Homo sapiens: one gene and its partners. The protein of the gene in region 4 purifies or fractionates together with the protein of the main gene of each other region. This does not show direct contact. Each region holds a gene or a part of one and is shown on either strand. Other genes may lie near its edges. The genes, in order: LRFN3, OSBPL8, ATP2B2, TAS1R2, ANO6, ATP11C and ASPHD2.

What was found.
Region 1: the proteins of TAS1R2 (region 4) and LRFN3 purify together in Homo sapiens (affinity purification with mass spectrometry; one large-scale study listed by BioGRID and IntAct). This does not show direct contact.
Region 2: the proteins of TAS1R2 (region 4) and OSBPL8 purify together in Homo sapiens (affinity purification with mass spectrometry; one large-scale study listed by BioGRID and IntAct). This does not show direct contact.
Region 3: the proteins of TAS1R2 (region 4) and ATP2B2 purify together in Homo sapiens (affinity purification with mass spectrometry; one large-scale study listed by BioGRID and IntAct). This does not show direct contact.
Region 5: the proteins of TAS1R2 (region 4) and ANO6 purify together in Homo sapiens (affinity purification with mass spectrometry; one large-scale study listed by BioGRID and IntAct). This does not show direct contact.
Region 6: the proteins of TAS1R2 (region 4) and ATP11C purify together in Homo sapiens (affinity purification with mass spectrometry; one large-scale study listed by BioGRID and IntAct). This does not show direct contact.
Region 7: the proteins of TAS1R2 (region 4) and ASPHD2 purify together in Homo sapiens (affinity purification with mass spectrometry; one large-scale study listed by BioGRID and IntAct). This does not show direct contact.

Annotation. Positions count from the first base shown.
Region 1 is NC_000019.10:35,939,007-35,943,060, forward strand, and holds part of LRFN3 (leucine-rich repeat and fibronectin type-III domain-containing protein 3 precursor), read left to right. Parts: intron 1-403; 5' UTR 404-419; coding exon 420-1,834; intron 1,835-4,054. UniProt on the Homo sapiens protein: Cell adhesion molecule that mediates homophilic cell-cell adhesion in a Ca(2+)-independent manner. Promotes neurite outgrowth in hippocampal neurons.
Region 2 is NC_000012.12:76,388,578-76,392,631, reverse strand, and holds part of OSBPL8 (oxysterol-binding protein-related protein 8), read left to right. Parts: coding exon 1-51; intron 52-1,974; coding exon 1,975-2,212; intron 2,213-2,802; coding exon 2,803-2,987; intron 2,988-4,054. UniProt on the Homo sapiens protein: Lipid transporter involved in lipid countertransport between the endoplasmic reticulum and the plasma membrane: specifically exchanges phosphatidylserine with phosphatidylinositol 4-phosphate (PI4P), delivering phosphatidylserine to the plasma membrane in exchange for PI4P, which is degraded by the SAC1/SACM1L phosphatase in the endoplasmic reticulum.
Region 3 is NC_000003.12:10,323,283-10,327,900, forward strand, and holds the end of ATP2B2 (plasma membrane calcium-transporting ATPase 2), read right to left. Parts: 3' UTR 741-4,618; downstream 1-740. UniProt on the Homo sapiens protein: ATP-driven Ca(2+) ion pump involved in the maintenance of basal intracellular Ca(2+) levels in specialized cells of cerebellar circuit and vestibular and cochlear systems.
Region 4 is NC_000001.11:18,842,661-18,846,160, forward strand, and holds part of TAS1R2 (taste receptor type 1 member 2 precursor), read right to left. Parts: intron 1-3,500. UniProt on the Homo sapiens protein: Putative taste receptor. TAS1R2/TAS1R3 recognizes diverse natural and synthetic sweeteners.
Region 5 is NC_000012.12:45,428,775-45,433,083, reverse strand, and holds the end of ANO6 (anoctamin-6), read right to left. Parts: intron 3,980-4,309; coding exon 3,773-3,979; 3' UTR 735-3,772; downstream 1-734. UniProt on the Homo sapiens protein: Small-conductance calcium-activated nonselective cation (SCAN) channel which acts as a regulator of phospholipid scrambling in platelets and osteoblasts.
Region 6 is NC_000023.11:139,782,727-139,786,780, forward strand, and holds part of ATP11C (phospholipid-transporting ATPase IG), read right to left. Parts: intron 2,574-4,054; coding exon 2,500-2,573; intron 542-2,499; coding exon 438-541; intron 3-437; coding exon 1-2. UniProt on the Homo sapiens protein: Catalytic component of a P4-ATPase flippase complex which catalyzes the hydrolysis of ATP coupled to the transport of aminophospholipids, phosphatidylserines (PS) and phosphatidylethanolamines (PE), from the outer to the inner leaflet of the plasma membrane.
Region 7 is NC_000022.11:26,435,638-26,439,691, reverse strand, and holds part of ASPHD2 (aspartate beta-hydroxylase domain-containing protein 2), read right to left. Parts: intron 1-4,054. UniProt on the Homo sapiens protein: May function as 2-oxoglutarate-dependent dioxygenase.

The DNA of each region.
Region 1 (4,054 bases), on a different chromosome or scaffold from region 4:
GGAGTGTGGTGGCGCAATCATAGCTCACTGCAGCCTCAAATTCTTGGGCTCAAATTGATCCTCCCACCTCAGTGTCCCATGTAGCTAGGACCACAGGTGGGCGCCACCATGCCTAGCTAATTTTTAAAAATTTTTGTATAATAGATACACGGTCTCACTTTGTTGCCCAGGCTGGTCTTGAACTCCTGGCCTCAAGCCATCCTCCTGCCTCAGCCTCCCCAAATGCTGGGATTACATGTGTGAGCCACCGCGCCTGGCCTTCCTCTGGCTTTTGGTCACATCTGACGGTCTTTGACCAGCCCTTCTGCCCTCAGCCCACTGTGACCTTCTCTCCTGGTCTCAGACCACCCCCAGCCCCTGCAGAACCCCTCTTCTGCCCTCACGCCTCCCCTCTTCTCCGCAGGACACCCCTGCCCGCGATGGCCATCCTCCCGTTGCTCCTGTGCCTGCTGCCGCTGGCCCCTGCCTCATCCCCACCCCAGTCAGCCACACCCAGCCCATGTCCCCGCCGCTGCCGCTGCCAGACACAGTCGCTGCCCCTAAGCGTGCTGTGCCCAGGGGCAGGCCTCCTGTTCGTGCCACCCTCGCTGGACCGCCGGGCAGCCGAGCTGCGGCTGGCAGACAACTTCATCGCCTCCGTGCGCCGCCGCGACCTGGCCAACATGACAGGCCTGCTGCATCTGAGCCTGTCGCGGAACACCATCCGCCACGTGGCTGCCGGCGCCTTCGCCGACCTGCGGGCCCTGCGTGCCCTGCACCTGGATGGCAACCGGCTGACCTCACTGGGCGAGGGCCAGCTGCGCGGCCTGGTCAACTTGCGCCACCTCATCCTCAGCAACAACCAGCTGGCAGCGCTGGCGGCCGGCGCCCTGGATGATTGTGCCGAGACACTGGAGGACCTCGACCTCTCCTACAACAACCTCGAGCAGCTGCCCTGGGAGGCCCTGGGCCGCCTGGGCAACGTCAACACGTTGGGCCTCGACCACAACCTGCTGGCTTCTGTGCCCGCCGGCGCTTTTTCCCGCCTGCACAAGCTGGCCCGGCTGGACATGACCTCCAACCGCCTGACCACAATCCCACCCGACCCACTCTTCTCCCGCCTGCCCCTGCTCGCCAGGCCCCGGGGCTCGCCCGCCTCTGCCCTGGTGCTGGCCTTTGGCGGGAACCCCCTGCACTGCAACTGCGAGCTGGTGTGGCTGCGTCGCCTGGCGCGGGAGGACGACCTCGAGGCCTGCGCGTCCCCACCTGCTCTGGGCGGCCGCTACTTCTGGGCGGTGGGCGAGGAGGAGTTTGTCTGCGAGCCGCCCGTGGTGACTCACCGCTCACCACCTCTGGCTGTGCCCGCAGGTCGGCCGGCTGCCCTGCGCTGCCGGGCAGTGGGGGACCCAGAGCCCCGTGTGCGTTGGGTGTCACCCCAGGGCCGGCTGCTAGGCAACTCAAGCCGTGCCCGCGCCTTCCCCAATGGGACGCTGGAGCTGCTGGTCACCGAGCCGGGTGATGGTGGCATCTTCACCTGCATTGCGGCCAATGCAGCTGGCGAGGCCACAGCTGCTGTGGAGCTGACTGTGGGTCCCCCACCACCTCCTCAGCTAGCCAACAGCACCAGCTGTGACCCCCCGCGGGACGGGGATCCTGATGCTCTCACCCCACCCTCCGCTGCCTCTGCTTCTGCCAAGGTGGCCGACACTGGGCCCCCTACCGACCGTGGCGTCCAGGTGACTGAGCACGGGGCCACAGCTGCTCTTGTCCAGTGGCCGGATCAGCGGCCTATCCCGGGCATCCGCATGTACCAGATCCAGTACAACAGCTCGGCTGATGACATCCTCGTCTACAGGTGCAGGGTCCAGGCACTGGGGTAGCTTGGGTGGGGGAGTGAGGCAAGGGGAGGGTTGAGGGTACACCTACTAATACCCTACACCGAAGCACAACTGATAAGTGATGCTGGAAGGTTCCAAAAGAAATCAGAGAGCAAAAGTAAAAGAAATCAGGCAGCAAGGATAACAAGACTCTGGCAGAAAGGGTCAATGAAATCTGACAGCAGTGATAAAAAGAAGTCAGACAAGAAGGACGAAGTAAATGAGACAGCAAATGTTAAAATATATCAGGCTACAGGGCTAAAAAAGATCAAGCAATAAGGATAAACGAAATCAGGCTGCATGAGTAAAAAGAAATTAGGCAGCAAGAATAAATAGTAGTAGCAAACATAAAAAGGAAACCAGGCAGCGGGAGGAGAAAGTAATCAGGGCAGAAGAATAAAATGTTAATGGGCAAGGGTGGGTGGGGAAGATAAGGGGATAAAAATAAATTTAAGTTGTAAAGATAAAGAGAGAAACACCAGGTTTTCCAGATGACAGGACTAGATACTAGCTGGGCTGCAGGAAGAAAAGGAGATCAAACAGGAAAGCACAGGGAGCCCAGAAACAATGAAATAAGCAGCTCTGTTAGAAAAAGAAATCAGACCAGAGGTTAGAAGGAAATTGCAGGGAGGAGGTTCGATAGAGACTGGGCTTCGGTGTGTGTGGTGTGAACTATTCCATGTTTCAAGTTCTAATATAGTGACATCCAGATTTTTTTTTTTTTGAGACAGGGTCTCACTTTGTCGCCCAGGCTGGAGTGCAGTGGTGCAATCTCGGCTCACTACAACCTCCACTTCCCGGGTTCAAGCGATTCTTGTGCCTCAGCCTCTCGAGTAGCTGGGATTACAGACGTGCACCAGCACGCCCAGCTAATGTTTGCATTTTATTTTTAGTGGAGACGGGGTTTTGCCATGTTGGCCAGGCTGGTCTAGAAGTCCTGACCTCAGGTGATCCACCTGCCTCAGCCTCCCAAAGTGCTGGGATTACAGGCGTGAACCACCACACCCAGTGTAGATTTTTTCTTTTCTTTTTTTTTTTGAGACGGAGTCTCACTCTGTTGCCCAGGCTGGAGTGCAGTGGCACAATCTTGACTCACTGCAAGCTCCGCCTCCCAGGTTCATGCCATTCTCCTGCCTCAGCCTCCCGAGTAGCTGGGACTACAGGCGCCCGTCACCATGCCCGGCTAATTTTTTGTATTTCTAGTAGAGATGGGGTTTCACCATGTTAGCCAGGATGGTCTCGATCTCCTGACATCGTGATCCACCCGCCTCGGCCTCCCAAAGTGCTAGGATTACAGGCCTGAGCCACCGCGCCCGACAGATTTTTTATTTTCTAAATCAAATCAAACCTAGTTCAAGTTCCTTTTGCCAGGTAAACAGAAATATCCAGTTTGCCACACTTGTGGGGGATTCTCTTCTCTCTCCTGTTGTTGCAAACACAGAACCTGGGGTTTACACACTCCAAGAGGTGGCTCAGTCCAACTTGTTCCCCCAAGCTGGAGAGCACTCAGCACATCTGCAGTGACCGCATGTGGTCAGCAGTGGTGGCTGCTGACCTAGGTGCTGTTGACACCTCTTACCAAAGTCCAACCTTGCATGGATGGACTGCGGCTGTGGGTGAGTCCCTGTCCTCACGGCCAGGCTGGGCCAAGGGTGCAGCCCCAAGGCTGACTGTAAAGACTGGACCTCCCCAGGGTTGAGGACTGTTCCTTGGGGACCTAGTAGTACCTGGATGTCCTTTCCCTCCCTTGGGGCCAACACCTCAAGAAAAGGCCACTTGATTTCCATTTCAGTCCTGGCAACCCACTGAGCTCATTCTACTCCCTTTCTCAGACATGACTCGGAAGATTGCACGGAAGTCCTGCCCCTGAAAATCACACAAGTCGGCCAGGCGCGGTGGCTTAACCCCTATAATCCCAGCACTTTGGGAGGCCGAGGCAGGTGGATCACCAGGTCAGGAGTTTGAGACCATCCTGGCTAACACGGTGAAACCTCGTCTCTACTAAAAATACAAAAAATTAGCTGAGTGTGGTGGCACGCGCCTGTAGTCCCAGCTACTCAGGAGGCTGAGGCAGGAGAATTGCTTGAACCTGGGAGGCGGAGGTTGCAGTGAGCCGAGGCTGTGCCACTGCACTCCAGCCTGGGTGACAGAGTGAGACTCCGTCTCAAAAAAAAAAAAAAAAAGTCACACAAGTCCTG
Region 2 (4,054 bases), on a different chromosome or scaffold from region 4:
TTTCTATGGCTTACTACGTGCTAACAATCTCCACAGTGGTGATAACTTCCAGTAAGTAGATACTGCCGCTGAGTTGGTAATGTTTCAGAGACCATACTGTTCACAAAATTAGTTGGCAGGCCTAGAATTTTAGTAGTGTATCTAGGACTGAAATTTGCATATCTTCCCATTATATGGCCTAGGAACCGGCTTAAAATTTGTTTAGCTGCTATAATCAGGTGTAGAAATGTATTTCCTTGATTCCAGCCAACGTGATTTACTTTATCTTTCCCAAATATAGCCATGCTAATTATTCACCTTGTCTGTGCATGATGTCCCTTCTATTAAGAATGATTTCTGCCTACTCCTCCTTACGCTTTTCTCCTGTCTATATATTCTTCAAGATCAGTCTCAAATATTACATCATGTGTGAAACCTTATAACTATGAGACATAATCTGTCTTTCTATAGAGTAACATGTTTTTAGTAATGGCACTGGACTTAACTCTACCTGGTATTTGTGAAATTCATTTATATTTCTGTTTGGAATGGAACTGTATCCTATTTGTGGTTTTATTCCCTGAAGCATTTATTGTAGTTAACACTAAAAAAGCATTTCTCCAAGGAAACTGGGCAGTAGTGCAAAGACTTTCTTGAGATTCAGGTCTTTTTGTTGCTTTGCAGGAAAAACATTAGACTTTTCTATTTCCTCCCTGTCCCCACCCCTTGGCTTCTGCTCTGTAACCACTTTCATCAGCATTGAGGTTGCTCTTCTCAAAGTTAGACTGCTATTCTCCTCTTCTTCATATTGCCTGATTTAGACATTTCTTCCCTATCATTTTGCTTGTTTCTTTTTTTTTTCTGTCTGTATTACTTTAAAAAATTTTTTAGAGCCAGGGACTCACTCTGTTGCCCAGGCTGCAGTGCAGTGGCACAATCATAGCTCACTGTAACCTGGAACTCCTGGGCTCAAGCCATCTTCCAGTCTCAACCTGCCCAGTAGTGAGAACTACAGGCCTGTATTACCACACTGGGCTGGCTGGCTGGCTTATCTATTTATTTATTTATTGAGACATAGTCTCACTATGTTGCCCAGGTTTTTTTTCTTTTCTTTTTTCCCCCACTCTCTTTAAAATCTCCATTACCTGACCTTTTATGTTATTTCTTTGCAGACCTACGATCTGGAGCTTTATCTTAATCCCAAGTACCTGGTGCCCGAATGAGATAGGATGGAATGGGGTGGGCTACTGATAGAGGAATGGGTATTTGTTGGAACCTCTTTCCAAGACTTTCCCCCTTTTGTACAGATTTTTTGCCCTAATCACTTTAAGTGAGAATAGGGTAGATTAAGCAAAACTTACTTGATTTTAGTCCATAGGTTAATTTCTTTCAGCTGAAATTTTCATTTTTAATTCTCTCTGGATTTTGGCTCAGGATTAAACCTTTCAGACGAATAGAATTTAATATAATTGTTTATCATTTACCATTTTCATATATTTTTCTTGGACTCATGTGAGGTGACTTTGGAAACCTTCTTATACAGGTGGAAAGTCATAATTTATTTGAGTTCAGTTGAGAATCTGATTATCTGGACCTGCATTTTTTCTTCATACCATAAGTGACAGTGAGATTGATGCAAGTGATGCTGTTTGAAAAACTAAGAAAAATATCTAACAAGAAGTCTAAACTCTTGGTTTTGGAGGATTTTAGCCCCAAGTGGTAGAGAGGCAAAGAGCTCAGAGTGTCATCTTTTTGCATTTCTCTAGGTTTTTAATTTTTCTATGCCTCTGTTTACTAATCTGTAAAATGAGAATAATAATACTACCTATCTCATAGGGTTATTTTGAAGATTAAGTGAATTAACACTATGTAAAACACTTAGAACACTGTCTGGCACATAGTAAATTCTCAATAAATGTTGTATATAATTATTATTTATGAATTGAGCATTCTTAACATCCTTGATTCTTCCTCCTAAAAATTCTTTCCCTTAAGGTTAAATGATAGTGAAATTGAACGACAACATTTTAAGGACCAAGATATGTATTCTGATAAATCTGATAAAGAAAATGATCAAGAACATGATGAGTCTGATAATGAGGTGATGGGGAAAAGTGAAGAAAGTGACACAGATACATCAGAAAGACAAGATGACTCATATATCGAACCTGAGCCTGTTGAGCCTTTAAAGGAGACTACCTACACTGAACAGAGCCATGAAGAACTTGGAGAGGTAAAAGTCTGCTATTTTTAGAGGTTCTGGATTTTCATATTCTTGGGAATTCTTAAATGAAATTGAAGATATTATTTGCTTGATCTATTGCCTATTTTTCTGTGATAGAATGTGATATTTTAAAAATTGCATACATATGAAATATATTGGGATTTACAAACAACTAAACACATATACTCACATAAATACCAATATATTCTATTAAATTTAAAGTTTACATTTTCTTCAAGCTTGATTTTGAAGTAGGATATTGCTTGATGTCATTGCCAGGTGCAAAGTTGCAAGGAAACGTGAGTTTATAACTTTGTTATTGCCAGTGCATCATAGAAGTAAATGTAGTATAAAATAATAGGCTATAATATTTTTGTAGTGGATCTCTTGTATATATTGTTCACTTTGATGTCTTTTTCAGCTACCCTTTTTTACCTAAGTTTTATAGCTATAGATTTTATTATTATTTTTTGTTTCCACATTTAAAGAATGCTTGGAGTAGTCCTGAGAAGAGTTCATATTTTCAACATTAGCTGGCTTGTTTACATATCTGTCTGAAATAAATATAATGTTTTGGTAATTTTCATTAATTGATAAAGGCAGGTGAGGCTTCTCAAACAGAAACTGTATCTGAAGAAAACAAAAGCCTTATCTGGACACTATTGAAACAAGTCCGTCCTGGCATGGACCTATCCAAGGTGGTTCTGCCTACATTTATTTTGGAACCCCGTTCTTTCCTGGATAAACTTTCAGATTACTACTATCATGCAGATTTCCTATCTGAGTAAGTAGATTCTTATTTCTTAAAATAGACAATACTTCATGATTTTAGAAATTCTCAAGAATGCTATTTTCAATTATCGTTTGTTTCCAAAATCAGGCTCTAATGAGACATCACTCTCTGTTCTCTACCACTTCTGTGGTTGACCCTTAGTAAGAAGCATGTTTGATACTTTGCTATAATGTTGCCATTTATGAAGTTAAATTGAGATATCATAAGCTCGAGGAAAACAAGAATTCTACCCTTTACTCAACAACACTGCCGTTATAGGCTCCTTAACCTCAGTTCACTAACCTAACAGAGAGAGAGAGGTGATTGGCATCATTTGTTCTCCTCTACAAAAACACTTGTTCAGTCCCATCCTGGGGCATCTGTGTTTGCTCATACTTGTCTGTCTGCATGCTTGTGAGGTATGTACGGCTTACCAGAACTAGAATGCCCTGCCAGTTGCTAGCTTTTGGAACAAATCCTTATTTTCTTTGCTTTTCTGAAGCCGCCAGCTGATCCTGGGTGTAATTTTGAAGAAGGCACACCTAAAGGAGGCAGAGGAGGTGCTATCCACCTCTGTCCCAGCAATTTCTTGGAAAACCAGTAAACTTTGCAAGGAACAGCAACTTTGTGTCCATGCTTCCAATTCTTACCTGATGCCCCTATTCCAGCAATAATGGTGTTTCAAGGCACTGTGCTTTCTGTGCCACTGATATCTGGCCCTGCGACCTAATTTTTAGAATCTTTATCAAGACTTATTTTCGGTTTTTGTCTATAAATGGCATGAGCGAACATTGAAAAAAATAAGCTGAGTCAAAAAATAATTGGTAAACTGGGAAATTTTTGCAAATTTCATCGTAGACAAAATGTTAACCTCCCTAAAAAAAGCTCTTAAAAATTGAATGAAAATGATTCTATAGAAAAGGAAACTTACAGAAAAAGGAGTGGAAGAAATTACTGGGCAGTTGGAAAATGAAGAAATAGGAACAGTCCTTAAACATGTAAAAACCTCATGCAAAATAAGGAAAATGTACATTTGAATTATAGTAAGTTATTGTTGTTTATCCACCACATTGACAAAA
Region 3 (4,618 bases), on a different chromosome or scaffold from region 4:
CTCTTCACCTCTTTGAGATGCTGTCTCCTGCTCTTTTGAGTGAGAATTATAATAATACCTCCTCTGAAGGTTGATATTGGGATTAAATGAACCCTTGGATATGAAACTGCGTATGGAAGTCAGATGGGCCTATGGCGCTTGATTTGGGGATCAGTTCAACCTAAGAAGAGCTGTGTGAGTGTGTGAGTGTGTGTGTAACTCTCAACCCTTGGGCCAACCTTAGGGATTACTTGTTGGTCTGGGCATATTCTCTTTCTCTGCCAATGTTCAGCAGAGGTTTGTGAAGTCCAGACTCCTCAGGTGCCAGGCTTCCCTCTGCCTTACCCCTCTCCCCAGTAGGGGGGTGCCACCTAGATCCAGTGTCTGTATTCCGCATCTCCTCCCTCTGGTTAATCCAGACCCCAAATCAGGCCAACTTTCCCTGATTTTTGCCCCCCCACCCCTTGCCCCCAAACCTCCTCCGCTTCGTCCTGAGGCCCCGTTCCCCAGTCTTCTTCTATGAGATGGTCAACCATTCCTCATAGGTTAATGGCTCATGGCAGGGTGAGCCTGTCTCCCTCAAATGGTGGGTGTTCAAAAGGTGTGATCTAGTGGAAGGAGAGAGACTGCCCGCTGAGCTGTGGGCCCTTGGGCAAAGTGCATTTCCCTCCCAGGGACTCAGTTTCCCCCTGAGTTCAACTCCACGAAGGGCGGGGACCCAGCTGTCCTTCAGAAAAAGGCCTTGTGATGTGTACCGTGTCTGCATTTCCACGTGTGCATTTATTGTTATTGCTCAGTATAGTGTTGAAAAGGCAGACAAATCCCATTAATTACAAAGAGCACAAGCCAAAGATACAGAGAAATAAAGAGTGTACAATAAGAGCACAGTCACTTCCCAGCCCCGATTGTCCCAGAGCCCCCCAGAGCCCGGGCAGCTTACGGAAGCTGGAGGCGGCACCATTCCCTCGCTACTCTATTATAAAATATGTGCACACAAGAGTTAGCAAAGTGTGGTGACCCCCGAGAGGAAAGGTCCAGGAGGGAGAGCACCACAGGCATTACAAAACAGACTTAGGGGGCTGAGAAGGGCAGTCCCAAAGCAGCCTCCAATATTGTTTTCAGTGGAGGGGGTGATGGCTGCTGCCTGGGGCTGGGGACCCTCCTCCCCCACCTGGGTTGGTATGATCTCTACATTAAAATCAGGAGAGCTTGGTTTGGAACTTTGAAAAGGCCTGGGGACTTCCTGCTATTGTCTGACTTCCCTCCTGGCTCTGGAAGGCCTAAAAGCCTTCAAGAAACGCTCTTCCCTACAAGAGCCTCTAATGGTGGGATTTTGGACACAATGGCAGGAGAGAGATTTGGGTGGGAGGCTTGTCAGAATGCACCAGGTTGGCAGCCTCCTGCAGGTAGCGCAAGAGTGGGCTAGGGGAGTGAGGGTTCCGAGAAGGCCCAGGCAAGAACTGCCTGCATCCCAAAGGTACTGGAGACTCCAAATTAAAGAGCAAGAAACTATCCCCCCAAAACAAAATGAAACAAAAACAACAAAAAACCAGTTCAGGAAAGGGAGATAGGAATAAAGGTTTCTCCATGATGAGAATTAGAAGTGCAGACAACTGGGCCACACATTCTTTCCCAGCTCCAGGCCTAGGAGAGACTCCTCTTTCTCGTCTGGACCAGGGACAGATGGCGGGTCCACCCCAACACAACCAAGGTGGGTGACTTTGGTTCCCAAGCTGAGATTGAGTGGGGGCCTGGTGACCTCTCATGACAACTCCTGGGCTTAGGGGGCAGGTGAAATGATGGGAGGAACAGCAGGCTTCTCTCAAGATCAGGATGCCCTTTTTGTCCCTCTTTACAGAACATAGTCTATTTCACAGCCCTGAGTGGACAGTAATTACAATGGGGGGAAGATGATGGCACAGGGAATGACAGAGCCCAGAATTTGGGGGTGGGAATGGGACAGGGGGTGGAGGACTGGGCACAATTTAAAGTTTATGTGGAAGAATAGATGTGAGAGAATAACTAGGAAATTTTGTAAAAGAAGAGTGAAGGGACTCATCCCACCACATAATAAGACATTAGAAATTGACAATAGTTAAAATTGTATGGCTGGTGCCAGATGAGACACCCAAGTAAGCGAAGAGAAGAGAAGTTCCAGAAATAGATCTAAGTCTATGTAAGACATCAGTGTGTGGTAAAGGTGGCATTTCAGCATGGTTGGGGAAAAGAGTGGCTTCCAACAACTGGAGGACCCAGGACAAGACAGGTTCAGAGTCCTTTGAGCCAGTGCAGTCATTTTAATTGGTCCAGTCTCAGAAATAGGACTGCCTCTCTCTTGTCATCTCTATGCTATGGTTGGGACAAGGGGACAAGGGGCCATGGTGAGGGGTTGGCGGGAGCAATGGAGGCTGCTCCTGAGTTAAAGAAAGCTCCGCCTGAGTTGCAAGAAGGAAACTCCTCAGAGCTCTCTCTGCTCACCTCCAAAGATGAGTGATTCTGCAGCGCCAGGAGTCACTGAACGGGCTCCCTGCCCTTCCCTCATCTGTTGAGGGGGAGACAAGTTGGTGAGCTTAGCTCTCAGAACCAAATCTGCCACTTACTCCTGGAGCCCTTGTCTAGAGGACAGAAAAGAAGCTATGTGGATGATGCAGTCCCAAAGTAGAAAAAAGTATACATTACAGATATATTTACTATGTTCTGTTTGATGTTGTTTTTTGCTTTTTTTTTTAAACCACAAACATTTCAGAACCACACTGCACGAGTCAGAAGAGCCAGCGATTGAAAGCATAACCATTGCATAGTATTAAATGAACAGAGATGGTGAGTTCTTTATTTACATTATTGTCTAGATAAAAAAATTCATAAAAACAGATGAATGGTCATAAATTATTTACCCCCTAATGGAGTGAACTGCCAAACGTACCCCATGCTGCTAGATATAGGACGCAGAGTGCAAGCTTTATGTACTACAGTGAGTTTTGACAAACCAACCATTTCGTGTGTGTGTGTGTGTATGTGTGCAAGTGTGAGAGTGAGGGGGTGCATGTGTGCAAGCATCCTTCATTCCTGACAAGAGAAGACCAACGCTAATGTTGGCATTCTTCCATCGCTCCCTGTTCCCTAAGCCAGGCTCCACTGAGAACCCCTCCTGGCTCCGAATGAACATGGAGCATGGTGTGCAAACACAGCTATCCTGATGTCATGGAACGAGGTCACGGACACATGACTGATCAAAGAAGTGGGGAGATGGAAAACTGTGAGAAAGGAAACTCCAAAAAACACCATGTTCCAAGGCTGCCCCATGTTTTACACGTGCAGATCTTTCCTTCCTTGTAGGAGAGCAGTGGGCTGGCTTTGGTGGCGTTTGTACTGGAATCCAATAAGCACATCTGAGGGCTGGTCACCCCTTTGGTTATGCAGTTCCTCTCCTGGATACATTCAGAGATACTTCTTCACGACATTCAGGTGATGCGCTCTTGAAGGTCCTCCTTCCAGGAGGATTTTGCCAGGTGGGATGGGCTGACTTTGAACCCCAAACCCTCAAGTTTTTCCACCGCCATCCAGATGTAGGCCCTCCCAGTTGACTATGGCTCTTTTCCCGAGTGGCTCTCATCTTGTTTGTGGAAGAGTTCTCTGGGCCTGGAGAAGGGAAGGGGCTGGGCTGACACAGCCATCGTGAGGAGGGTCAGCATGAGGAATGGATTTTGCAAGAGAGGCGGAAAGTGTTTGGTTTTCCTCGAAGCATGGGACATCATCGATCATGGTATTCAAAATGTCTTTTGCACTGTACAAGTTTATGGAAAAAAGATCATATGCTGAAAAGTCTCAAAGCAAACTTTGTATTAAATACAAAAGTTCTTTTATGAAAAACGCTGAGACCCACAAAGTGCTTAGCAGTTAAGAGGCTGACATCCAATTAAATAAGCTCTTATTAAGTGGGATTACTAGTGCTGTTGTCTTGGGGAAAAAATAACCACCTTTTCTCACCTGTGATACTGTAGGGTTTCAGAATGGCTTTCTGTTTGGGAAAGCAAGACTTGCTGTTAAAAGGCTACAGTATATATTGTGACTACAGGAAGACAATTTGGTTTAAAATCACACTGAGTACATCTCAATATACACATCATAAGGTTCATTCGGATCTAAATAGTGCAGAGAAAAAGGCTATTCTTCTTCAAAAATAAAAATAAAAGCAGCAAGCCATACTGATCCTCATCCAATATGCCAACAGCTCAGATGCTGCCATTAATAAGGAAACAAACCTGTAAGTTACTAAATAAAAAAAAAAATCAACACAATACCATTTATAATATTTCAACACTACCTCAATCTCTGTACAGACAGTGCCAAAGAGAACCTATTTTTGAAATGCTCTTAGTAAACTCAAGCGAGTTTCATTGAGAGAAAAGTCTTCGAGCAGTGCTTTGCAGATCCTGGCATCCTTGGGCCGGATGGCCGTTAGTGTTGCAAACCCAGGAAGCCTTCTCTCCTCCTCTCCCTTCGTCTACGGAGCATGTTGTTAAACCCCTCAGGATGGCAACTCGGTAGCATTTGGCTTCTGCCTGAGCCTCTCACGGTAGTGACATTATTGAACGGAAATAGCAGGCAAAAATCAGAGCATGGCTATCATAAAACATCC
Region 4 (3,500 bases):
ATTAATGAAAATAAAAACACAACATAACCCCACAAAAAGACAAATACTGTATGATTCTACTTATATGAGGTGTCTTAGGTAGTCAAACTCATAGAAACATAAAGTAGAAGGATGGTTGCCAGAGGCTGGAGGAAGGAAGAAATGGGGAGTTGTTCAATGGGAATAGAGTTAGAAATTTGCAAAATGAAAAAGTTCTAGAGATCTGTTGCACAAAAATGCGAATATACTTAACATTACTGAAATGCATGCTTAAAAATAAACAAATTGGTAAATGTTATGTTATATGTCTTTTATCACAAAAATAAAAAATTTTAATGTACCAAAATTAATGGGGTACAGTGAAAACAATACTTAAGAGGGAAATTTATTATTATAAACATCTGTATTTAAAAAGAAGAAAGATGTTACATCATTAACACTCACTATCTTATCAAATCACTGACATTCACTATCTTATCGTAGAGTTTACTCTTTCACTCTCGATCTCAATGTAGTCCACATGGAAGTTGTTCATCTTGACATTCTGCAGAATATCACGCTGGTCTATGATATTCATGACACCGTGGTAATTGGACCTGGTTAGTAGAAAGTAGCAAGCACTTTTATATCCAAGTAAGACCTATGAATGCCAGAGGATTGGAGATAAACCTTGTAAAGATTCAAAACTTGGGGTTGGGGGTGCTGTTACATTGGTGATGTTTTTAGGAGGCCAAAGGTACAGAGAATGCCAGGACATCCATTCTAAGATAATAGACAAGTCATCCACCCTACACCTGCTACCATGAAAGTATGGAACTTTATAAACCTCTTTAGATTTGCGGGACAACATAAATTGCTCCTGGAAATACTACTGCAACCCGTTTATCAGGTGATTCAGAAGGCTTTCAGTTTCAAGGCAGAGGGTAACAAGTCCAGAAAATGACTCTGAAGAAGGCCCTGGCTTCTGTATAAGCGATCCTGCCACTGGGGCCACATGATCGAGGAGATCTGATGATGTTTGAGTTATCTATGCTTATAAGAATGGGCAAGCCCAAAGAGAGAGATGCAACAATGCCATGCCTTCTACAACAACATGCTACTCACTACTTGAAAATCAACTCTTGGAGTCCTGCTGGGCCATCATGGAAATTGAGTACCTGACCCCAGGACATCAAGTGACTATCAGATTCACAGAGTCTTATAGAGAGGCAGGAATAAAAACAAGTCTTCATATAAGGGAAATGGTATCCAAGAAGCGCCAGTGGGTCCAAGTAAATTTCTTAAATCAATTATTGTGACTCCTGTATCTATTTCTGTTGTAACAAATGCCTCTCCCTCAAATCATACCTAAGACCTCAGGGAGAGATTCTTTATGACAAATAAATAGAGGAGAACATTCAGGAATGATTCACAAGTAGGTTGGTTTGATATATTAATGTGAGCTGACAGTGGACTGCTGCCATACTAAGCTTTTTTCAGGGATACAAAGCTTTTTTCAGGGTGAATTCTGAAGGACAGTAATGATGGGAGATACTGCTTGTATGTGGAGATGCAAGCAGGACACTTGGTTGTTTGCTTTGTGTGAATGGAGAGATGTCCTGAAGGATGGATATTCTTGAGATCCTGGACATATGGAATGGCTTGGCTGGTTGTTCAGGGGCCTGGAAGGAGCAAGAGTGGAAGAATGGAGACAAAGTTGCTTGGGGAAAGGTATATGTATGGATCCATGAGAGTGAGCACAAAGCATGAAGATCTCTGTGTCTCATGTTAATGCAAACCAGAGAGCAAACACAGAGTAATAGAAACCAGATTAAAAGGTTGACTTGTCCCAGCCAGGCACCGTGGCTCATGCTTGTAATCTCAGCATTTTTTGGGAGGCCAAGGTCGGCAGATCAATTGAGGTCAGGAGTTCCAGACCAACCTGGCCAACATGGCGAAATGCTGTCTCTACTAAAAACACAAAAATTAGTCAGGTGTGATGGTGCATTTCTGTAATCCCAGCTACTTGGGAGGCTGGGGCAGGAGAATCTCTTGATCCCTGGGGGCGGAGGTTGCAATGAGCCAAGATTGTGCCACTGCACTCCAGCCTGGGCGACAGAGCGAGACTGTCTCAGAAAAAAAAGAAGAAGAAGAAGAAGAAGAAGGTTGACTTGTCCAATGAAGGTCAGCTGGCTTTTGTCCTCAGCCACCCCAAGGCCTGCACAGAGTGGCCATGATGTCAGGGATGGAGGCTACAGATATGAACCCAACAGCTTGAGCTTCCTCTCATCATGGCTGACCTAGCTACTGCCATTGCAGAACACCTAACATTCCAGCATCAGAGACCCACCCATGCTGAGCCCTTGACTTGATACAATTCTTCAAAAAGACCAGCCAACCAACTGCTGAAAGATCTATTACATCAGATCTTTTCCTCTCTGGGAAAATTCCAGGAAGGGAATTTTCCTTCCCTGATTTCAATGCAGCATCGCCATCTGGGGGCTTACAGAGCAAATGATTTATTGATGCAGGACACTGTATCACCTCAGATCAGGAGTCAACTTCATGGTAAAGGGGTGTGACATGGGCATGTGACCACAGGCTCCACTGATCCTAACATATACCACATTACCCAGAAGTATCCTATCTAACCAGGTGATGAGATGACATACTAAAAGCTCAGCTAAGGTACCATCTTCAGGACCCCCTGCAAGGTGGGGACACTGCCCTTTAAGATGAAGTTTTGAATGAATGGCTTGTGTATAGTGTTGTGGCCTCAACAGCTAGAATATGTGTATCCAGCAACCAGAAGGATTGGCTACATGCACCATTATTCTCAGGAACCCATTGCAGCATTGGTGCTTCTCCTCTCTACAATCTTACACTCTGCTGGAATAGAGATTCTGGTCCCCAAAGGGGGAATACTTCCACCAGCAGACACTATAGGGCTCTACGATTACCATGTGGTCATTTTGGGTTCCTCATGCCAGTGAATGAGAAGGCCAAGAAAGGAAGAAGTAACTGACCTGGATTCGTGGGTGGAGCTGAGGTGGTTGCTACACAAGTGGAGTAGGAAGGAGTAGGTCTGGCACCCAAGGACTCACCAGGCAACCCTGGGTGCTTCAATCCCAGTGCACCTGCGGGTGGGAATCTGCAGCAGGCACAGCCCAGAAATGCAAGGCAACTAAGGGCCCAGACACCTTGGGGAAGAAGGTCTGGATCACCCCCCAGGCAAGTGACTGAGAGCAGCCAAATGCTGGCTGAGAGTGAAGAAACCCAGAATGGTAAGCAGAAGAGAGAGATGAATATCAGTGACAACTTTGGGTAGTGGCTAAGTCCGCCAAACTCCCTTTCTGTTAGAGACTGAGCTGGCGGCTGCTCTAAAAAGTCTGTGACTCCTCAGGCTCAAGGAAAGCCACTGAGTGGAACAAGAAATGGGCCTCTCTGTGGCCTGCCTCATATTTTCTCAACCCACTGTTTATTCCAGCCATTGCTGCAGTCACCAGTTTCAAGCAAGTGCCACCTGTCAGCACCTGGCCTCG
Region 5 (4,309 bases), on a different chromosome or scaffold from region 4:
GGGAAGCTGTCAGTTATTCATCAAGTCCTGGTCATATTGGGCCAATTGTTACAGAAGTTATTCTTTAGTTTCCTGGATTGTAACTGGAGAGAGCACTCTGACTTTGTTAGTATAACCTACTGCAGGCTGGCTCTCTGGGCTGACTATTGCAGATAGCAGGGGCAGGGTGTGGATAGAGTTCTGCTTTTACATATGATCTGGCCATTGTCCATTTACATATTGCCTCTCAGTAATGAAGGGGAGACAGGGAACACAACCTAAATGGTTCTGGGAAAGGTGTCCTATAGAGAGAAGGCAGCAAGAGAAAGACGTTTCTAGTTTTGCCAGTTACGTCCTCTCGGTCACTATTGGTCATATAACGAGTATTTTAAAAAGGAAATGAATGGAATATGCTACATTTATAAGTGCTATTGCAGATATTTTAACACATTTCATTAAACTAGTAGGTGAAATCAAACATTATTCAAAAGTCTGGTAAAAAGTGGTAAAATTTGCTAGATTGATGAAAAGAATAGGATTTGGGCTGAGTTTAATAACTAGCTTTTCTGATCTGTAACCTTAATACACTGAATATAATTTTTAAAAATCCATAGCAAATCTCTGAAGTGAAGGCTGTGAAAAATCTACACAAAAGCACACATTTATCTAAGTGATACACAACTGGCCACTAGTAAATAGCAGATATATGTTCTCTTCCTTAAAAACGTTAAGACAATATAGAATAGACCATACTATTGTTTGTAAAAATGAATTTATTAAAATGCTCATAATTATAAAAGAATATTAAAATGCACAGAAATTAACATTAATAATTATAAAAGAATATTAAAATGCACAGAAATTAACATTAATTACAAACTTTACATCTTATGCCACAATGTGTGAAAAGCATCATGAATAGTTCTACTTCAGTTAAGCTGCTCATACATTTTTACCCTCTCAAACATAATATGAACATAAAATGGTACAAGAAGTGTTTCAACAAGAGTACATTCTGACCCCCATTGTGAATTAATGTTTTATGAAATTCAAGGCACACATGCAATAAAAAAGGGAAGACTTTGGTGACAGTTTATAAGATGGCCTTGTTTAGTTTTAAAATAAAAATGATAGCTTTCCCTTTCTAATGATATATAGCTAAATTATCTGAGGGATGTTTAATGAAAAATCCCCTGAGTATTTGCTCTAATGTTTCAATATGCTAAAATTCACAGGCATTAAAAAAGGATATAAAGCTCAGTTTCTCTAGTGGTTAACACTGGACAGGCTGAAGGCTAGATTCTCCCTCTTCACAGGTCCACTGCCACACCCATCAATTTCCCCAGGGCTGCTGCCTCTGAAGCCACTTACAGATGCAGCCACCATTGTCTGCAGACACAGCTCCATGCTTTTCTTTATCACTGCAAGTCAGCCGTGGACTCACTAACAAACACTGTGGATGGCATGGGGAAATGACCCTGCATCTCCACTACAACTTTGCTCTTTTGGGCATCTTAACAGTGTCAGATATTACATTTGGTGCCTTTCAATATGTAGAGGGTTTTTTTTCCCCTCCTGTCCACAGCAGCACATTTAATCTATGAAGAGGATTTTCTCTGCTGGGGCTATGAAAACAAATGCACATTTCTTTTAAGTTCTATCATACATACAGGAGATAAGGTAAAAACATTTCCTTTTCTATGCTGACATACATGGCGAGTAACTGCCAAATTTAAACACTAGGAGATAGTCACACACTTCAGAGAAGAGAAGAGGTACTAGAGAGGAAGTGACACCCGCTTCCAGAAGCAGTATCTCAGGAGTGAAGAGAGGAACAGTGGCACTCCCGTCTTGGCTGCGAATGAGAAAGAGTTTCCTTCAGTGGGAAGAAATTCATTTCTCCATCCCAGTGCAGTCAGACTTCATGGGGCCTGTCTTGAACTCTGATTGCATCATTAACACGATCAAGAGAGACAGTGAAATGGGGTCCCGGATCCACTGGGACAATTCAAAAGCCTACAATACTGCTTTGATGGATCCTACATAATTACTTACAAATCATTCATGGCAGGCATTTGAAATCAATCATGACCTAGAGTTACGCTACTTTATTGTAAAAAGCCTCTAAAATCTGAGTTTTCCTTTGCTGCTGGGATTCTGATAGGTTGGCTCCTCTGGTGTTTAACAGCATCCCAGTGAAGCCCATGCAGCATGACCATGATGCAAATCACCTCCCTCTTGTGCACCCAGCAATGACCTGTTACCAGTAGGGGTGAGAGGGCCTGGCTCCCTGTCTTTTCCAGAGCGCCCAGGAGGCCTGACACTTACAAGGCAATAAAGTGAAGTAGACTGCTAGGCTGAGCAAAAGTGAGGGGGCAAGACGTGCATGGCAAGACAGGAGTGCAGCAGGAAGTAATCTCCAGATAATGGTAGGGTTTGTGACCAAACCCTTTTCCTTTATTACTCTTAACTGCCTGATTGGCTCTAGAGGAGGCTAAAAAATCAAATCTAATCTGAGTCTCTTTACTTGATTATGAATAAGCTGGGTATACTCCTGTCTCTAGTACAATCAGACAGTTACATCAAATTACTGGGCCCAGAGTAACAGGATGGAGGATGCAAGGAAGCCACATTCTTTATGGCAGAGACTTTGGTGTGTTGATCACTTTGGCATACAGAAATAAGCCAATTCCTGCAGACTCCTTGACAAAAGGCACTCCCCACCCAATGACCACAATGAGGGCACTTGCTGTTTCTGCCCATGCACACAGTTGTACCCCAATGGCTGTGTAGTGAGCCATTCACAAAGGCAGCTGGTGATGTGTAATACTGCACCTTCTGTATCTAATGAATAAAAGTCAACTGGTAGAAAATTGAGGGGCTTATCTTTTCCAGACAATTATGTTGATAAAAATGTAATTTTAATCATGTGATATCACTGTTTTCCAAGAAACTACACATCTTTAGAAAAGATTAATTATCCAGATCAACATGAGTTAAAATGCTGTTTGAATCTGTAACTTTCCCTGCTTTTGTCATTTTATTCCCTTGAGATCTGCAAAGCAGTCAACATTGATTAGGCACGGAACCTCCTAGGAGTGCTCCTGGAAGATAAAAAGTGTCACTGTGGATTAGGACAAATATGCTTCAAAACCTTGCTATCTTCACTCCAACCTACTAAGAGTATTTTTTTGAGATGGAAAGACATGCTCAAATGAAGACTGAAACTATTTCCTCTGATTAACTGAGGTTTCCTTTCTGGAGGTATTGAAAATACACCTAAATATTGTGAATCCTTGAGTCTAGTTAGCTATTTTTAATCACATGAAAGCTATTAAATTAAATCTATAATGATGGTACTGTAAGGAAAAGATGACCCTGGAACAGATCTAGCCAAGTGAAGAAATGAAACATGGCTTAAAAATAAAGGAGATCATGCGCCTGAGAATAGACAGAAATGAAAATAATCAAACAGAAAAAAAAGAATCCATTCTACTTTAGAAGGGGTGGTTTTTAAGCACACTGAGGGACTTTTTCTGTAAAATTCCAATTTATCAGAAAAAGGTAACATTGAGGTTTTCCGGGTGATAAGTTTTATGCCCTTCATGATCTAAGTTTTACATTTTCCAGTTTCTGCATCGCTAGCTGAAACTGAAAAATAATACATGAGGAAATGGCAATAGTTGAGACTCATATTTGCCAAAGTGATTTAACTTACACATTCTCATTAGTGATTCCTAATATATTTTGACAAAGCTAAATTCCTTAAAGTGCTTCTCAGAACATAAAGCTCTTATTCTGATTTTGGCCGTAAATTGTTATCTACTGCTTCTATCATCCGCTCAGCTATCACCCCCATATTTTTCGTCATATCTTTGAGGTGATTCTCATGAAGAAGCTTTTGGGTTAGGTATTTTTCTCTCTGGATCTTGCTCTTTGTGCGTTTTGATACATCGGGAATTGCATATGAAATGAAAAATTTCACAGAGTAGATGACGTGCTGGGGAAGAGAAGAAGAAAAATGTCACTCACAAAGAAATGGAGGAGAACACCGAGTTCCTTTCATTCTTGCTTGTCATTATGGCAGTTTATCTGGACAAGGCAGTGGACATTTTACACACACAACCAACCGCTAATGCCATTGTGTCTAATCAACAGTGTGGCTCTAGCAGTTACTGTTACTTTACACATTTAAATAATACTATGTGATATGTAGAAAAGTATATATACACACATATAATGGTTATAAAGGATAAAGAAAAAATGAATACCTCAAAAAACCTCCATTAAACTTAAAAACTAGGATGCTGACAATGCTGTTGTATTTTGT
Region 6 (4,054 bases), on a different chromosome or scaffold from region 4:
TCCTAGGAGTAAAGTAGGAGATCTGTAGTTATTCTAATAATAGTTGGAAAAAAAAAAAAACACACTCTGTAAATACTCTTGCTTTAGCCATATGGACAAGAGAAATTCTGACACATATTTAGTCTGAAAAAATGAAGAAATTACAACTGAAAAGGTAACATTCAATTAGGTTCAGAAAAAGGAAGTAACAGTTCTTTTAACAAAGGTTGTTGAAAAGTCTTTTAAGGCTGCAAATTCTGACCTGAAACTTGCTCCAGGAAAATGTTTTATATTAAGATAAAAAAAAGTAATATTATCAAATCCCCAAATACAAAACATAGACCACAAAAATAAGCTAAAATGTATTTAAACTGTCATTTAAACAGAAATCCAATAAACATAGTCATTTTCAACATTTCTCTGCTTACTTATTGGTGGGGGAAGGAGTATAGGCTCACCATTGCATTACGTTCCACATGGACTTTAGTTAACTCAATTTCATGATTTTGCACTCTGGGAAAAACTGCCGAGTCTGCTCCTTTACAAAAGAGAAGTATGTCTCCTAAAATAAAGAACCATAGTACTTGACTTAGAATTTTAAGGCTGGTATTGTGGTTTTAGTAAGAGTAACTTTTAAAGCGGTCTCTCTCACCCAAGTGTTGTATATTCTGAGCACACCTTGCAATACTCACCTAAATGGAATGAGAAATCTTGGCCTTCAGTCTGTCAGAAAGGCATGTACCACCTCTTCAAGGTCATTATGAACACAATTAATAAGCCAGAGTTTACAATAGGCACCTCTGTTAAAATATACTTCCTCCCACCAATTCATGGAGGGCTGGGCTTGTGTCAAGGAGCTGCATCTGAATTTCTTCTGAAAATGTATGCCAGGTGCAGTGGCTCATGCCTGTAATCCCAGCATTGTGGGAGGCTGAAGTGGGAGGATCACTTAAGCTCAGGAGTTCAAGACCAGCCTGGGCAACACAGGGAGACCCTGACTCTACTAAAAATTAAAAAATTAGCCAGGCATGGTGGTACACACCTATAGACCCAACTACGCTGGATGCTGAGGTGGAAGGATTGCTTGAGCCCAGGATGTCAAGGCTGCAGTGAGCTATAATCTTGCCACTCCAGCCTAGATGACAGAGTAATACCGTGTCTTAAAAAAAAAAAAATGCAGTGAAGCCATGGCCTAGAGCACACATATGGCATCTACAGATGTCAAGAAGAAAGCTCAAGCTCAAACAAGCTGAAATAATTTTGAATAAACTATATTAACTAGCTTCTAAAACAATGGCTTGATAGTTTTTACTGATGAGAATAGCTTTGTAGAATGCTGGTATAATTGCAGCTTTAGATCACTTCACACACCCAGGAAATATTCACAGTTGTGCACTAAGACAGACACTTTATCCTTATAAGGGAAACAACCGAGGTCAACAAATTAAAAAGTGTAGCTCTGAGGTCAATGACCTTTGTAGACCAGTTCCACAGACATTTCACCATTTGCTGTAGAACATGTGGACATGCACACATAAGAATAGCAAGTATTTGAAATGTTGTGTTTTTTTTTTCATTTATTCTTACACATCCAAAGTGTATTTTAAAATTCACAAAACAAACTCCATGGTCACTTATTAAAATCAATTTCATGACTTTGCAATCACACCACAAAGTATGAATTAAGTGGGATATGTTCCCCCAAGGATCTGTCTGTATCCTCCCATTCTGACATTAAGGAATTTAGAAAATTTAATAGTAAAACGTAAATTACTGGGAAATAAATCAAAAATTTTTAGAAAACAAACCACCTCGGCACACCACACACACACGTATCTGAGAGCCTTCGAATAAAGCAGGATTGCTCGCCCATGGGTCTTGCAGAATCTGAGCAGAAGGCAAACCACCATGGTGCCTCCAAAGACATGAGGGAGCCCAGGATTACAGTACCAGTTCCCCTGCAAAGGGCAAGCTTTACTCTGCTCAACAAAGAACCTGAGCTCTGGAGTGAAACTGCAATGCCATTTCCCAGAAACCAGGCCCTTAGTCCTCTCTACCTCACCTGTTTCCAGGGAGTGTCAAGCAGTAGGGGAACCAGGAAGGTCAGTGAGGGATAACAAGCAACTCCCTATACTCAAGGATTCTGCTGCTAGTAATCCCAAACCATCCAACTATGCTGGGTGGCTGCATGTAAACATTACTGGTAGACTGGTCAGTACCCTGAACCATATAAAAGTCATCCTTTCAGTTCCTGTTCGAACACCCAAGGCAGAGGGATATGGTTCTGCTACCAAGAAAAGGCACACCCTGTCATAACAAGGGTTCTGTCACTAACAATTTGGTAAACAGAACATCTGTGCTTAAAAAAATACATGAAAGCATATGCAAAAGCTACTGCTTTGCATGACTTTCACTAATCCTACACTACTACATGAAATGATTCTCTTTCCTGAAAGAGTGAATCAACCAATAAGCCTACAAATCAACAAAGAGAAAAATTCAAGCTTTTCAGACATGTACCTTCTTGAGTCTTCACAATTACACTCATACGTCGCCGGACAGCATCAAAGTTTAAGGTGTGAAGAAGTTCATATCTTTAAGAGAAATGAGCAAAGTAAAAAACCTAGAATATACTGAGAAAAATAAAGCACAACAGAAATATGTTAAGATATTTAAACATCTTAAATCAACAGATAGCACTGGTTGTGTGCACAACTGGTACTTTCCTTTGTCTCAGAATTTCTCTGAACATAGAACATGCTGTCAGAGGACACCAGTGTTAGTTAAGGGGTATTTATAGCCCCTCAGTATATTACTTAAAATGGTAAGGAGAATGACCACATAAAAATGGAAGATAAAGAGCTGTCCCACCAAGCCATATTTGGAGGGGTCTAGAAACAGTCCCACTCTGCCAATTATTTTAGCAGCATTTATGTATGGAGTGCCAGGCACAGTGCTAGGTGCTGGGGAATAGAGGTGAATCTGCCTGAGTCCCTTCCCTTATGCGGGTCACCATATGATAAGGGAGACAGAGCATAATGAGATAACTACCCTTCTAGTTTCTCAAATACTGTAATAAAGGCACTTACAGGGAAGATATAAGAACACAGAAGGAAGTCATCTGAAAGGAGGTTTCCTGGAAGAGGACATGCCTGAGCTGGGTTCTGCAAGGGTAATATGATGAAGAAAGGGGGCCATGGCATTCTGAGTAGAGGGAATGAGCACGGCAGCATGAGAGCACATGGCCCATGGAAGACTTTAAGTAGTTCACCAATGCCCAAAAAACTCATCAATAGGGGAATAGTAAGAGATAAAGCAAGAAAGGTAAGCAGGGGCTGGAAACACATCTTTGTGAGCCATTTCTGGAATTTGGGATTGTATTGTAAGAGCAAAAGAAAGCCAATAAAAGGGTTTAAACAGTGGAATGACATGATGAGACTGGTCAAATGTGTGTGTGGATGGCTGAACTAATCAATGGAGAGACACAGAAGAGTTAAAATAAGAGTTGGTTATTAGAAAAAGTGAGAGGAAATATTTCCTTGAAAATAAACAACTAGTATTTTTTAAAAAAAGTATTTACTACATAGCTTGTTTTGGTGGGAGTGAGGGGGTCATTAGTCTTGCGGGAGTATATGTATAAGACATCTAACATGGCATCTGGTTTGCTGTTGGCCAGATGTGGGCACTGTTGCAGATGGGCTAGAATCTAAACTCTGACAATGACCCTGGGTCCCTGTCAGTCAGACCAAGAACCTTCCTCTGGGCTTCTATGAATCTCTCTCCAAAAGGGTGCATTACCCAAGTACCTGTAAACATATTACAGGTTTCTGAGATGGGTCTCAGGAGATCCTAGGGGCCAGAATGAAAGTCAGATAACATAATTATATTTCAAGTTCAGATGAGGAAATTCAAATTAATCACAGAGCCTAATTAAAATCCACCATTAAGATAAGGTGGCTTTGTTCATTAGGGTCTTTGTGGCAAAAGAGGAAATGTGAAGACACTGGAGCATCAGAGTACTTGCCCCGAGGCTCACACCTGAACATTCCGAACCAAACAAGGCTTCTGGTTTACA
Region 7 (4,054 bases), on a different chromosome or scaffold from region 4:
ACTTCTATCCTTGTTACCAATAACTGAAGACCTACTGTGTCTTCCTACTCAGCTTTGTGCTAAATACACACTTAACAGGTATCACTTCACCCACTTTCCAGATGGGGTAACTAAGAAGTTAAATGACCTGCTAAAAAGTTACCATTTAGTGTTGCTGAGTCAGCCTGACTCCAAAGAACAGGCTGTTATAAAACTGGACATGATGATATAAATGCTAGTTGTTATACTATTAACAGAGGAATTAAAGTGATTGTGGAGTTTTCGATTTTTCTTTATTTATTATTATTTTTTTTGAGACAGAATCGTGCTCTGTCGCCCAGGCTGGAGTGCAGTGCCATGATCTCAGCTCACTGCAGCCTCTGCCTCTTGGGTTCAAGCAATTCTCCTGCCTCAGCCTCCCGAGTAGCTGGGATTACAAGTGTGCACTACCGTGCCCAGCTAATTTTTGTATTTTTAGTAGAGATGGGGCTTCACCATGTTGGCCAGGCTGGTCTCGAACTTCTAGCCTCAAGAGATCCACCTGACTCGGCCTCCCAAAGTGCTGGGATTACAGGCTTGAGCCACTGTGCCTGGCCTGATTGCTGATTTTCTTGTAGTTAACATGTCTGATAGTTAATACTGAGTTTCAACTTGATTAGATTGAGGGATACAAAGTATTAATCCTGGGTGTGTCTATGTGGGTGTTGCCAAAAGAGATTAACATCTGAGTCAGTGGGCTGGGGAAGGCAGATCCACCCTTAATCTGGCAGGCACAATCTAATCAGCTTCCAGCAAATATAAAGCAGGCAGAAAAACATAAAAAAGTGAGACTGGCCTAGCCTCCCAGCCTGTATCTTTCTCCAGTGCTCGAAGCTTCCTGCCCTCAAACATCGGACTCCAGGTTCTTCAGCTTTGGAAACTGACTGGCTTTCCTTGCTCCTCAGTTTGCAGACAGCCTATTGTGGGACCTTGTGATCATGTGGGTTAATACTTAATAAACTCCCCTTTATATATATATGTGTGTGTGTGTGTGTATGTATGTATGTGTATATATATATATGTATGTGTATATATATATGTATATATATGTGTGTATATATATATGTATATATGTGTGTATATATATGTATGTATATATATGTATGTGTATATATGTATGTGTATATATGTATGTGTATATATGTATGTATATATATGTATGTATATATATGTATGTGTGTATCTATATATATGTATATATATGTGTGTGTGTATATATATGTATATATATGTATGTGTGTATATATCTGTGTGTATATATATATCCTATTAGTTCTGTCCCTCTAAGAGGACCCTAATATGTTTCAACTCTCAATAGTACATTTCATTAAATCAGCTGAGACTGCTCATCCTGACAGAAGCCATGATTTCCCACTATGGTTAACAGCAGCTGGGGGAGTCAGGGCTGTAAAGACGCCCAGATGGAGGGACTCAGAGGCTACGTTTTCCTTTGGCGTGTGCCCCTACTGGCTGGTTCAGGTGGCGAAGGCCTTTAGGAATGGGCAGTTCTCTGCAGGGACAGCCACCCCGGGGTTTCAGAAAGAAGCTCCCCTTTCTCTGGGCCACTAAATGATTCATCGCCACGTGCCACGGTGCGATAGAAAAATGGCCTGGCCTGCTGGCTTGACACCCCCCTGCTTCTTGTTCTCCGCCTCCCCTTCATTCTGCTCCTGCCCCCATTCCTGCCTGTTGCCCACAAACCAGCTTAGTTGGCAGAAGAGCTCAATTCTTCCCTAAACAGATCATTCCAGTGGCTCTTGAGGACAGTGACAGGTCCCACACATGGCCTCAGATAGTCCCATATGCTCCTCTATGGCTCAAGCTTTGCTGCTCTGTCCCTACCGAGCCCTGAAAGAGGCAGGAAGGAGGGTAGAGAAAGGGCTGTGTCCACCAGTGGCCCCCACTTCAGGCGGCTGGCAACCGGGCACTCAGGGTGGGCAAGGGGAACATGAGCTGATCTACTGTTACCACCCGGCTAGACCACCTAGAAATCTGATGACATGCAGAAAAGAAAAACAAGAGTCTAACTGTGCTTCTTTAGCTAGAATTTGCTGAACATATTCATGCATTTTCATGAAGTATCTGCCTCCCTGGTAACATCTGCCTGGTGAGTTTCAGAGGTGGTTTTCTGGAAGTTTGTGGCAGTGCATCTGGAATATCCCAGCATTGTGTACGATGCTGAGTGGGGGGTGGGCCTGAAGCTGTCCTGTGGTCCCATATGAAGTCGGGACTAGGTGATGCCACCTCTAGAAGTAGCTCACAGCAGGGCTCAGCAAATATGTCTCGAACAAATGGGCTGTGTTAGTGAGGAGCAGTGGCTGGGTCTTCAGTGGTCCACAGGGACAATTCCATCAGTCACAGCTCAGGCAGAAGGCAGAAGAAAAGCAAGCATTGGCATTTCAAGAGCACGGTTCTGGAACTGCAGGTGCCTCTACCTTCAGCCAGGTAACCAGCAGAGGTGTGGCCACCAGGTACGCACCAGGCTTATCCTGCTTCTGACCTCATTCTCTGGACTCCCTCTCTGTCAACACACAAGGTCACATAAATCCGACACACCTTTGTTTCCTTCCTGGGTGGATATTAATGTGGGCATGATAGTGTAAAGAAGGAAACGCTGAGAAAACCCAACCAGGGAGCTCGCCTTGGCCGTGGAGAACAAGCCACGCCACAGTGGGACGTCTTCCAAGAAGGTTTCCTGCTATCTACAGGAACATGGAGGGCCTACTTTTTCTGGCAAGTACCTAGCTGGGCTGAGAAAGGAATGACAGGCCACAGGCCACAGTGTGAGCCAGCGTGGGCATGTTTTACACACACACACACACACACACACATGCATGCATATCATACAGATGAACAACAAGTGTTAATCTACAGAAAGCAAACCCCAGATTTTCCTTGCTACCATCACTTCCTACTCACACCTCTTTGAAATTCTACCACATCAGTCCTCAAATGCCCTTCCCCAGATGTCATTCTGAAGTTTTAAAACAATACATAAAGGCAAACCTTTCAAAAGAAGAGCATCACTCCCCATTGCCCACGGCCTCCATTCTCAAGCCTGGCATCAAGGGCCTCTGAGGTTTGCTCCCACCTGACCTGTCCAACCTCAGCCCACACTACTGGCCTCCCCAGCAAGCCTAGACCCGGCTTCCCCAAGCCCCAGGGGATGATTCCGCTCCCTCGCTCCACCCTGGCGGCACCTGATTTCTGTGTGGGGATCCTCCAGTGTCAGACCCACCTCCCCAGGGCACCCCGTCTGCAGCCAAGTGAGGCTTGGGGCCTCGCACAGCAGTTTTGCTAATGACCATCACCTGGATTATCATCCCATCACTTAGATTAGCTTACTGTCCACTGCCCTCTACCTGCCAAGCATTTTACACATATTACTTCCCACTCCTCAAAACAGCCAGCAAGTGGGAATCGTCATCTCTGTTTTAGAGAAGATAAAACGGAGGCTTAAGGAGGTTCAGAGCCCTGCCCAAGGTCACTCAGCAAATGGGGCGAGGCCAGGACCTGAGTCCAGATCTGTTTGCTTCCGAAGCCTGTTCCTTTCCCACTGTTTCCTGGGGGCAGGGTCTATGTCTTATGGATCATTTTTCACATGGTCCAACACAGTCCTTGATAATAGCTACTAGCTCCCATTCATCAAATGCTGTCACGTGCCAGGAATCCTGCCAAGGGGCCATGTAAGATGCCACTCATTGAATCCTCTCAACAATCCTGTGAAGTAAGTACCATCTCCCCATTTTACAGATGAAGAACTGAGGCAGAGAGAGACTCAGTGACCTGCTCAAAGTCTCACGGCTGACTGCTGACCAGGAATTCAGGCCACCTCCCCCAAAGCCTCCACCCAGTCCGCCCTTTACTCTTGAAATTCCTACCATGTCAATTGCTCAAATCTCATTATATTTTTCTTTTCTTTTCTTTTCTTTTCTTTTCTTTTCTTTTCTTTTCTTTTCTTTTAGTGCAGTGATATCCTCCATCCAAACCACATCTTACTCAGAACCCCCACACAGACAGCAGGAGAAGCAGAGCT